3 linked regions of the Homo sapiens genome follow. The protein of the gene in region 3 purifies or fractionates together with the protein of the main gene of each other region. This does not show direct contact. Each region holds a gene or a part of one and is shown on either strand. Other genes may lie near its edges.

Evidence for each region.
Region 1: the proteins of NR1H3 (region 3) and DDI2 purify together in Homo sapiens (affinity purification with mass spectrometry; 2 studies listed by BioGRID and IntAct, with this or other methods). This does not show direct contact.
Region 2: the proteins of NR1H3 (region 3) and AKIRIN2 purify together in Homo sapiens (affinity purification with mass spectrometry; one large-scale study listed by BioGRID and IntAct). This does not show direct contact.

The regions. Positions count from the first base shown.
Region 1 is NC_000001.11:15,648,307-15,651,958, reverse strand, and holds part of DDI2 (protein DDI1 homolog 2), read right to left. Parts: intron 2,240-3,652; coding exon 2,136-2,239; intron 254-2,135; coding exon 64-253; intron 1-63. UniProt on the Homo sapiens protein: Aspartic protease that mediates the cleavage of NFE2L1/NRF1 at 'Leu-104', thereby promoting release of NFE2L1/NRF1 from the endoplasmic reticulum membrane.
Region 2 is NC_000006.12:87,678,082-87,681,733, reverse strand, and holds part of AKIRIN2 (akirin-2), read left to right. Parts: coding exon 1-114; intron 115-3,652. UniProt on the Homo sapiens protein: Molecular adapter that acts as a bridge between a variety of multiprotein complexes, and which is involved in embryonic development, immunity, myogenesis and brain development.
Region 3 is NC_000011.10:47,260,848-47,264,499, reverse strand, and holds part of NR1H3 (oxysterols receptor LXR-alpha), read right to left. Parts: intron 3,260-3,652; coding exon 3,051-3,259; intron 2,954-3,050; coding exon 2,774-2,953; intron 2,582-2,773; coding exon 2,482-2,581; intron 1-2,481. UniProt on the Homo sapiens protein: Nuclear receptor that exhibits a ligand-dependent transcriptional activation activity.

The sequences.
Region 1 (3,652 bases), on a different chromosome or scaffold from region 3:
GCCCACACTTCCCGGGCTTACCCATCAATAACAAGTATTGAAGAGTTTGGCCATCCCAAATACCTGCATCCTCTGCTGATTTTTGAAGGGCTTCTGCTAATTCTTGGTCTGCAATCTCCTCTGGCCGTACATCCTCTCTTCCAGCCCCATATGCCAACCGGGCACACTCTGGTAGCTCTCCCTCAGGAAGAAAGGTGGTCTGGGAGCCTGTGGTGCCGATCACGAGTACATTTTTCTTCAGGTCGATGGAACACTTGGAAGAAAGAAACCAAAGAATAATAGCAGATAAAACACCATGCAGAAAAATTATGCTCCTTAATTTAAAACTCCAATCACAAATGGCCAGGCACGGTGACTCATGCCTGTAATCCCAGCACTTTGGGAGGCTGAGGAGGGCAGATCACCTGAGGTCAGGAGTTCCAGACCAGCCTGGCCAACACGGTGAAACCCCACCTCTACTAAAAATACAAAAATTAACCAGGCGTGGTGGCACATGCCCATAATCGCAGCTACTTGGGAGGCTGAGGCAGGAGAATCACTTGAACCTGCGAGGCAGAGGTTGCAGTGAGCCAAGATTGTGCCACGCAAGGCAATCTCCACAGTATTCTTTACTCCATGCTAATGCTAACTTCCTTTTTTGTGTATTTTATAACTACTTAATAGACAGTTGTGCACATATATGATTTACATCTATAAAGTTGGAGACTGCTGGTCTATACCATGACTAAAAAAATAAGGAAAGGCAGTGACAAGGTTTTATTGATACATACACTCATTCATTCATTCGTTCTATTTAGAATGCTGTGAGCCGGGCGTGGTGGCTCACGCCTGTAATCCCGGCACTTTGGGAGGCTGAGGCGGGCGGATCACGAGGTCAGGAGATCGAGACCATCCTGGCTAACAAGGTGAAACCCCGTCTCTACTACAAATACAAAAATTAGCCGGGCGTGGTGATGGGTGCCTGTAGTCCCAGCTACTCGGGAGGCTGAGGCAGGAGAATGGCGTGAACCCAGGAGGCGAAGCTTGCAGTTAGCCAAGATTGCACCACTGCACTCCAGCCTGGGCAACTGAGCGAGACGCTATCTCAAAATAAATAAATAAATAAATAAATAGAATGCTGTGTCTTATTATCAATATGATGCATCTACTTTTACAGAAATATTTTAAAATAGTGACATAAAAATATTGATTAGCTATATTTTCAATTGTTTTTAACTCAATTTTGTTTTTTGAGATGTGGTTTTGCTCTGTTACCCAGGCTGAAGTGTAGTGGCACAATCTTGACTCACTGCAGCCTGGTCTCAAGGGATCCTCTTGCCTCAGCCTCACGAGTAGCTAATGTACCACCACGCCTAGCTAATTTTTGTACTTTTTGTAGAGACAGGGTCTCACTAAGTTACCCAGACTGGTTTCAAACTCATTCTGGCCTCAAGCAATCCTCCCTCCTTGGCCTCCCAAAATGCTGGAATTACAGGCATGTACCACTGTACCTGGCAGGTTGACTGGATATAAAACCCTACTGTGAAAAATGTGAAGTACCCAGTGAGGTCTACAGCCATACCACCCTGAGCATGCCTAATCTCATCTAAATACCCAGTGGACTAACTGCTTCTTCAACGACGGCAGTATATCTCAAATTATTGTGCTTTAGAGTAGAAAGATAAATATCAACACAAATTAATATATTAATTATGCACCCTGTACTAAATAAACACTTTCACTCCCAACATATACCTTCCTTAACCTTGAAGGTCTTCTTCCCAAGTACTGTTTGATCAGCATCAGAGAATGCTAAAGACTTACTTGACTCACACTTTTTAGTCAGGTCATCAAAAAACTACTAATCAGGATCTAACCAGAATCTGAAAATTATACAAGGGAACCAAACTGTCCTTTACAATCTCAAAACATTTGGCAAGATTTAACAGATTCACAGAGAGATTTCACAAAAACAGATTCTATCTATATCGACACATCATTTCAACCTCTGTATAGCAACATAATTTAAGGACATTTCCAGGTTTGAAAAGTCGTTATTTCTTAGTTTTCCAGTATATGTAACCAATAAAAATAATGTGATAATGACCATATTACAAAAAGCAGATGCAAAAAAAATAAGTGAAGCTCTTAATTACCTGGTGCCGTTTAAGCATGTCCAGTCCCAGAAGCATGTCCATGGGCTGTTCCTCAAGTATAGAGAAGGAACATGGCAAAAAATCTCCTTCAATCTGAACCTGAGCTAAAAAGCACATGAAGAGAAAAGGTTATTGTTACGTACTTCAAAACAGAGACGGAGTTTCGCTCTTGTTGCCCAGGCTGGAGTGCAATGGCATAATCCTGGCTGATGGCAACCTCTGCCTCCCGGGTTTAAGTGATTCTCTTGCCTCAGCCTCCCAAGTAGCTGGGATTACAGGCATGTGCCACCACGCCTGGCTAATTTTGGTATTTTTAGTAGAGACGGGGTTTTGCCATGTCGGTCAGGCTGGTCTCAAACTCTTGGCCTCAGGTTATCTGCCCACCTTGGCCTCCCAAAGTGCTGGGATTACAGGTATGAGCCACCGTGTCCAGCTGAAAAGTTCTTTTCATTATTATTTTTTGAGACAGAGTCTTGCTCTGTTGCCCAGGCTGGAGTGCAGTGGCGTGATCTCGGCTCACTGCAACCTCTGCCTCCTGTGTTCTCTGATTCTCTGCCTAAACCTTCCAAGTAGATGGGATTACAAACACGCACCACCACGCCCAGCTAATTTTTACATTTTTAGTAGAGACAGGGTTTCACCATGTTAGCCAGGCTGGTCTTGAACTCCTGACCTCACGTGATCCACCCACCTTGGCCTCCCAACGTGCTGGGATTACAGGCGTGAGCCACTGCACCCAGCCAAAAACTTTTTGTAGAGATTGAGTCTCGCTATATTGACCAGGCTGGTCTTGAACTTCTGGCCTCAGGCAGTCATCCCTGCCTTGGCGTCCCAAAGTGCTGGGATTACAAGAGTGAGCCACCACACCCAGCAGATGACCTATTTTTAAAGAACTCCTTCCTTACACAAGATATTGTGTATTTTCTGCTAAAATCTTTAATTTTCCTTTCCACATCTAGGTTTTAGGGTTGTTTTTTTTTTTTTTTTTTGAGACAGGGTCTGCTACGTTGCCCAGGCTGGTCTCAAACTCCTAGGCTCAAGCAATCCTCCCTCCCCTGCATCTAGGTGTTTACTCTGAATTTGCTTTTGTGTGGTGTGGGTAGGGTCCGATTTCTAATTCATTTCTCCCCATGGATACCTCTTGTCCCAGCAACATTTCCTAACATTTCCCCATTGCTCTGTAAGACTTCCTCTCATTGATCAATGTTCATAGAATCATGGGTTTGTTTCTACTCATATCTTCTAGATAGTCCTTTGATATCTAGAAGGCAATGTTTTTCTAGAGTATTTTGCCCATTCTCACAATATAGGGCCCACGCCAAATTTAAAATGAGCACATCCAGTCTCACAAAAAATCTACCAGGATTTTGATGGCATCTCAATGGTTCTGTGGATTAATGTGGGAGAACTGCCACCCCCAACATACTGAATCTCTAATCCATGGTAAAGCTTTCCTTTTATTTAGGTTTCCCCTATTGCTATAAGGGTTTTTTCATGCTGATCATAGCCACGGTTGT
Region 2 (3,652 bases), on a different chromosome or scaffold from region 3:
ATAAACGAATGCAGAAGAGAAGACATTTAGAAACGAGTTTCCAACAGACAGATCCGTGTTGTACTTCTGATGCACAGCCACATGCATTTCTCCTCAGTGGACCAGCTTCACCAGGTAATAACATTTCTTGTCATTTACAAAGTTTATTATTTAGAGTGGGAAAAGTCTAATCCAAGTTGTCTTTAGTCATTTAAGCTACTGTATCTCCTCTGAGTTTTAAAAAAACATTTATACAAGTAATGCATGACATCTTAAAAAATAATATGGTACAAAATAAGGAGTTACCACTGGATTCCCACTAACCAGAGACAACCACCTGCATATAATATCCCCAAAGTGGACATCCTGTAAGTACTATGATTTGTAGCCTTTATTAAAAAAAATTAACAATAGGCCAGGCACGGTGGCTCATGCCTGTAATCCCAGCACTTGGGGAGGCCGAGCGAGGTAGACAGGTCACTTGAGGTCAGGAGTTTGAGACCAGCCTGGCCAACATGGCAAAACTCTGTCTCTACTGAAAATAGAAAAATTAGCTGGGCGTGGTGGCACGCGCCTGTAGTCCCAGCCCCTCGGGAGCCTGAGGCATGAGAATCACTTGAACCCAGGAGGCGGAGGTTGCAGTGAGCTGAGATCATGCCACTGCACTCCAGCTTGGGCGACAGAGTGAGACTTTGTCTCAAAAAAAAAAATAATAACAATACTGTATGCTCCTTTGTTAGGTATAGATGTACCTTGTCATGACTGAACACTTAATGATAGATAATTCAACTTAGAAGTTTTGCTGGTATAGTATTTTAAGAACTATCCCTGTATACATACCCTGCCTCACACACTTGTCTTATTGGGCTAGATTTCTAAAGGTGGATTATTATTATTTTTTGATCCTGTATCTGTTTTTACCTACTTTTTGTTGGGGGGAATGTTTGCAAATAACCTTCCTTTTTTTTAAAAAAAAAAAAAAGGGGGGGGGCGGGGAATAAGGGCTACTTGAAGCAAAGAGAAAGTTGAAGGTTTTGCTGAGAGAGAGCCATCAATAGTGGCTCTTATCTTTAGTAAAGTTCTCAGGAAAATAGCTTTTCTTGTGACAACAGTTGCCTTTGTTCAACGCTTTCTCTCCTCCCCCTAGCAAGGGAAGGAAAACCTGGCAGAATAAAAAAATTTGCGGCTGGGCGCGGTGGCTCATGCCTGTAATCCCAGCACTTTGGGAGGCCAAGGCAGGTTTATCACGAGGTCAGGATATCGAGAACATCCTGGCTAACACAGTGAAACCCCGTCTCTACTAAAATCCAAAAAATTAGCTAGGCATGGTGGCAGGCGCCTGTAGTCTCAGCTACTGAGGTAGGAGAATGGCATGAACCCGGGAGGCAGAGCTTGCAGTGAGCAGAGATCGCGCCATTGCACTCCAACCTGGGTGACAGAATGAGACTCAAAAAAAAAAAAAAAAAAAAAATCAAAGACCATAACATAGTCAAATAAAATTAGATTAGGAAACATGAACTTGTTCAAAACTAAATACTGCCATGCCCATTGTGGGGGCCAGGTATTAGTGGTTGAAACATAGAGGTGAGGGTTGGGCACTAGACTGTATTAGCAGGAAACCAAGATCATTATTTCCTTACTCACTTTACTTAGAAGATCAGTTAACTGGCAGTCTTAAGTAACAAAGCTGGGAATGTGAAAGTAAATTAAGATGGCTTTGGATAATTATGGAATAAAGCTGGTGGGCTTTGTTATTGTGGTATGCACAGTTCTAATAAGCATAGTTAACTAGCTCCTGCCATGCAGGTTATAAGGAGCAAGTTAAGAGAGTAAGTAATATTGGTGGTACCAGGGCAAATTCACAGAGCGAGATGAAGAAACAATTGGTAACGAATGGTGCACTTGAATATGTATAAAATACTTTTAGCAGTATTACAGTAGATGTTATTACTACAAAATATTTTCTCTTTTATTAAAAATATCCTAATAGGTATAAAAATGCTGAAGGAATATTTGAAATTGACAGATGCTGATGTTGCAGCTGCTTTGGGATTCTTAGTGTGATGACAGTGTAGTTCTATGGTATAGAGTTTTGAGCATAGCATTATCAGCTCAATGCTTGAGCTTATTTTTCCATGCGAATTGTTGTTAACTTAATGGGAATTAGTGGTCAATGAGTTCAAAAACCTTTAGAATCATTTATGCTTCTCCAGCAAAGTAGATTTCAGAATGTCTTGTTTTGTTTTGTTTTGTTTTTGAGACAGGGTCTCACTCCGTTGCCCAGGCTGGAGTACAGTGGTGAGATCTTGGCTCACTGCAACCTCCACCTCAGCCTAGCCTGTAGCTAGAACTACAGGCACGTGCCACCACTCCCAGCCAATCTTTGTATTTTTATTAGAGACATGGTTTGCCATGTTGCGCAGGCTGGCCTTTAGCTCAAGGGTTCCACCTGCTTCGGCCTCCCAGAAAGTACTGGGATTACAGGTATGAGCCACCACACAAGCTAGGTTCCAGAATGTTTTTTAATCTTTTCTAAAAAGGATTCATGCTGTACCTTCTTTTTTTAAACATAAAAATTTATTGTGCCAACATGAAATTTCTTTTTTTTTTTTTTTTTCTGAGATGAAGTTTCACTCTTGTTGCCTAGGCTGGAGTGCAACGGCATGATCTCGGCTCACTGCAACCTCCGCCTCCTGTGTTCAAGCGATTCTCCTGCCTCAGCCTCCTAAGTAGCTGGGATTACAGGCATGTGCCACCACGCCTGGCTAATTTTGTATTTTTAGTAGAGACTAAGTTTCTCCATGTTGGTCAGGCTGGTCTTGAACTTCTGACCTCAGGTGATCCGCCTGCCTCGGCCTCCCAAAGTGCTGGTAATACAGGCGTGAGCCACCATGCCCGGCGTATTTTCTTTTTCAATAAAGGAAAACCCCTTTCTAAAGGTGTGAAATGATGGTAGAATAATTACCAGTTCATTGTGTGTAGGCTCTTAAGATATTAATGGTATGGCTTTGAAGACTAAGTGTCTTTTTACAGGCATAATGATTTGTTATTCTGGGACTAAATAAAATTAAATTTAGACCTGAGGTGTTCTTCATTCCTAGTGTAGGAAAGTAATTTAGTCACTAAAATACTTCATGGTATGGTATTTTCCAGAAAGGAGATAAGATGTTTTGTAATGGGACCCATCATTGTAATGTTTAAGTTTTATGTCTTTTTTAAATTTAATTTTTAATTTTTTGTTTTTATTTTTTTGAGATGGAGTTTCACTCTCTTTGCCCAGGCTGGAGTGCAATGGCGTGATCTCGGCTCACTGAAACCTCCGCCTCCCGGGTTCAAGTGATTCTCCTGCCTCAGCCTCCCGAGTAGCTGGGATTACAGGTGCCCGCCACCATGCCTGGCTAATTTTTTTATGTATTTTTAGTAGAGGCAGGGTTTCACCATGTTGGCCAGGCTGGTTTCAAACTCCTGACCTCAGGTGATCCGCCCACCTCGGCCTGATTACAGGCGGTGAGCACCACGCCCAACCTTTCTTATGTCTTAAAGTTTTTTCTACTCACCTTTAGTCTTTTTTATCTTAATTACATCTTGCCGTGTTTTTCCAGCGTCACCAGCTGATGGAATTATTATTTTGGTTGTTTTAAGACTTGTGAAATGCTGTGCTTAAAATCTGATT
Region 3 (3,652 bases):
ATAAAGTCATTAAATCACCCCATTAGGTGTCAATACATCCAGGCAGCACACCGGTTACTATAGAAGGCAAAAGGTGCCAACATAGCCCTGTTATGCCCTACAGCGAAGAGTGGCCTTCCTAGAAAGCTCACTGGGTGGACTGCGTTGGGAGAGCAAGAGGCACGTGAGCTGGCCTGAGTTATCAGAAACCAAGGAAGGCTTGATGACTGGCCTGGCCACAGATCTACCAGCCCTGAGAGTGGAGTCAGGGCATCAGCCATATTTTACAGCCCCACTCATCCAGTCGTTAAGCTACTTGGTTTCCTGCTGAAGCTCAATTCCAGTCCCTCCAAAACTCCCTCAGCCTCCCGTCCTTTCCCAGGCCAGTTCTCATGATACAAACATTATCAATAGTTGAATATGAAGAAACCCCTTCTGCGTAGCTCCCAAGCGAGCATCAGATAGAGAGCCGCAGAATGAACTAATTTTTGGAGAAAATACTTCAGATATAGGATGGAGATGGAAGCATTCGCTCTTATTGTACATCCTCTCTGGGCATGTTTGCCATGCCATGGTTCTGGTTCGTCAGAAAGTGCAATTGAAAAAGAGTAGGGGAGGGGCCTGGACAAGTGGCTCATGGCTGTAATCCCAGGACTTTGGGAGGCCAAGGCGGGCGGATTGCCTGAGCTCAGGAGTTCAAGACCAGCCTGGGCAAAACAGTGAAACCCCATCTCTACTAAAAATACAAAAGTTAGCTGAGCGTAGTGGCGCGCGCCTGTAGTCCCAGCTACTCAGGAGGCTGAGGCAGGGGAATCGTTTGAATCCGGGAGGCAGAAGTTGCAGTGAGCCAAGATCGCGTCACTGCACTCCAGCCTGGCAACAGAGTGAGAATCCATCTCAAAAAAAAAAAAAAAGAAAAGAAAAAAAAAGAAAAAGAGTAGGGGAGGCTGTGTGTGGTGGCTCATGCCTGTAATCCCAGCACATTGGGAGGCCGAGGTGGGTGGATCACTTGAGCTCAGGAGTTCGAGACCATTTTGAGACCAGCCTGGGCAACATGGCGAAACCCACTCTCTACAAAAAAATATAAAAATTAGCCTGGCATGGTGGTGCATGCCTGTAGTCCCACCTACTTGGGGGCTGAGGCAGGAGGATTACTGGAGCCCAGGTGGTTGAGGCTGCAGTGAGCCACGTTCATGCCACTGCACTTCAGCCTGCGTGACAGAGCAAGAACTTATCTCAAAAAAAAAAAAAAAGTAGGGGAAATCAGCCCCCATGATCCCCAAAGAGCACATGTGAGGAAGATTTGTTCACTTTTTGACTACTAAAAAGTTGAGTGCACTGAGTTTCAAACTTTTTTTTCAAGCTGTAAAATCTGCAAGCAAAATACTATGTAGCAGTGCAATATATAATGCAGATTTAAATGGAGCTTCTTGTTTGGCTAAAGTAAAGATGAAGGACATTCCTGTGCCTCCCTGTTTCTCCTCCAAGGTGCCATTCCATATATCTCTCAGGTTCCTTGGAATACAGTTTGAAAACCACTGACCTAAAGCAACAGAGGACAGGGGTCTATCTGGAGCAGCTGAGAGAAGCCTATCAGCATTCCAATTTTCTATCTTCAAAAAACAAGGGAGCCTTCCCTTACCAGCCACCCAAACATTGGGCCTGTGGCTCTGTAGTCACTATGGGCCTCTGACAAAAAGCACCAGTCCTGGCCAGGTTCAGTGGCTCATGCCTGTAATCCCAGCATTTTGGGAGGCTGAGGCACATGGATCACTTAAGGTCAGGAGTTCAAGACCAGCCTGGTCAACATGGTAAAACCCTGTCTCTACTAAAAGTACAAAAATTAGCTGGGCATGGTGGTGCACCTAATCCCAGCTACTTGAGAAGCTGAAGCAGGAGAATTGCTTGAACCCGGGAGGCGGAGGTTGTAGTGAGCCAAGATCACGCCACTGCACTCCTGCTTGGGTGACAGAGCAAACTCTGTCTAAAAAAAAAAATGAAACAAAAAAAAAGTACTTGGCCGGGCATGGTGGGTGGCTCACGCCTGTAATCCCAGCACTTTGGGAGTCAGAGGCAGGAGGATCACTTGAGGCCAGGAGTTTGGGACCAACCTGGGCAACATAGTAAGACTCTATCTCAATTTTTGTTGTTGTTGTTGTTGTTGCCCAGGCTGGAGTGCAGTGGTGCGATCTTGGCTCACTACAACCTCTGCCTCCCAGATTCAAGTGATTCTCCTGCCTCGATCTCCCAAGTAGCTGGGGCTACAGGCGCGTGCCACCATGCCTGACTAATTTTTTGTATTTTCAGTAGAGACAGGGTTTCACCGTGTTAGCCAGAATGGTCTTGATCTACTGACCTGGTGATCTGCCCACCTCGGCCTCCCAAAGTGCTGGGATTACAGGCATGAGCCACCGCGCCTGGCCCTCAATTTTTAAAAATAAAAAATAAAAAAAGAAGCATCTGTCCACCCAACCCCAATCCCTGTGTGATCTCAGTTCTCACCTGCTTTGGCAAAGTCTTCCCGGTTATAACTGAAATCCTTGAGGAAGGTGATACTCTCACTCCCAGGGTTGTACCTCCGAGATGTCTCCAGAAGCATCACCTGCACACAAGCAGCAAACCTCAAACGGGGACTAGGAGGGCTGGTCTTGGAGCATGGCCTCTTCCAGGGAGGCCGATTCTCCTCATCCCTGCTTCCCAGCAGATTTGGCTCTCCCAGCTCGATGTCTGGAGGCCCCTCCCACAGATAATCCCACTCTGCTTCTCCCTTCATCCCTTGCCCTTCTCCAGCCACCTCGATCGCAGAGGTCTTCAGCAGGGCAATCTGGTCCTCCCGGCTGAGCTGCAGGAAGCCGGGTAGCTGTTTAGCAAAGTCAACTATCTCCTGCACAGAGACGATGGCCAGCTCAGTGAAGTGGGCAAAGCGCTGCTGACGGGCCTCCCGGCTATGGGGATCTGGTGCCATGGGCCAAGGCTACCCAGGAGGGAAAAGGCAAAGCGCTTTGAGTCGGACATCAAGAAGCCCACTGGTGATCTGGGCGCAGCCGCCTCTCCCCAGGTGTGTCAAGTACCGTGACTCGAAGCCGGTCAGAAAAGGAGCGCCGGTTACACTGTTGCTGGGCAGCGACGAGCTTCTCGATCATGCCCAGTTGTTCCGGGCTGAGCTGGGGCAGGATTTGGGGGGGTGAGGAAGCCCTGGGGGGCAAGGATGTGGCATGAGCCTGTTCCTCCTCTTGCCGCTTCAGTTTCTTCAGGCGGATCTGTTCTTCTGACAGGACACCTAAGGACAGGGCCAAATATGAGGAAGGGAGCAGATGGGGAAAGGATGGGGCAAGGGGGTGGGGGAAAGACAGGAGGGAAGGATGGGGCAAAGGGGGTGGTTTGGGGCTCCAGAAAAGCAGACAGCACTGGGTAAAGGCAAGAAGATTTTTTTTTTTTGAAACAGAGTCTCACACTTGCTCAGGCTGGAGTGCAGTGGCATGATCTTGGCACACTGCAACCTCCACCTCCCGTGTTCAAGTGATTCTCCTGCCTCAGTCTCTTGAGTAGCTGGGATTACAGGCGCTCACCACCACACCCGGCTAATTTTTGTATTTTTAGTAGAGTCGGGGTTTCACTATGTTGGCCAGGCTGGTCTCGGACTTCTGATCTCAGGTGATCCACCCGCTTCGGC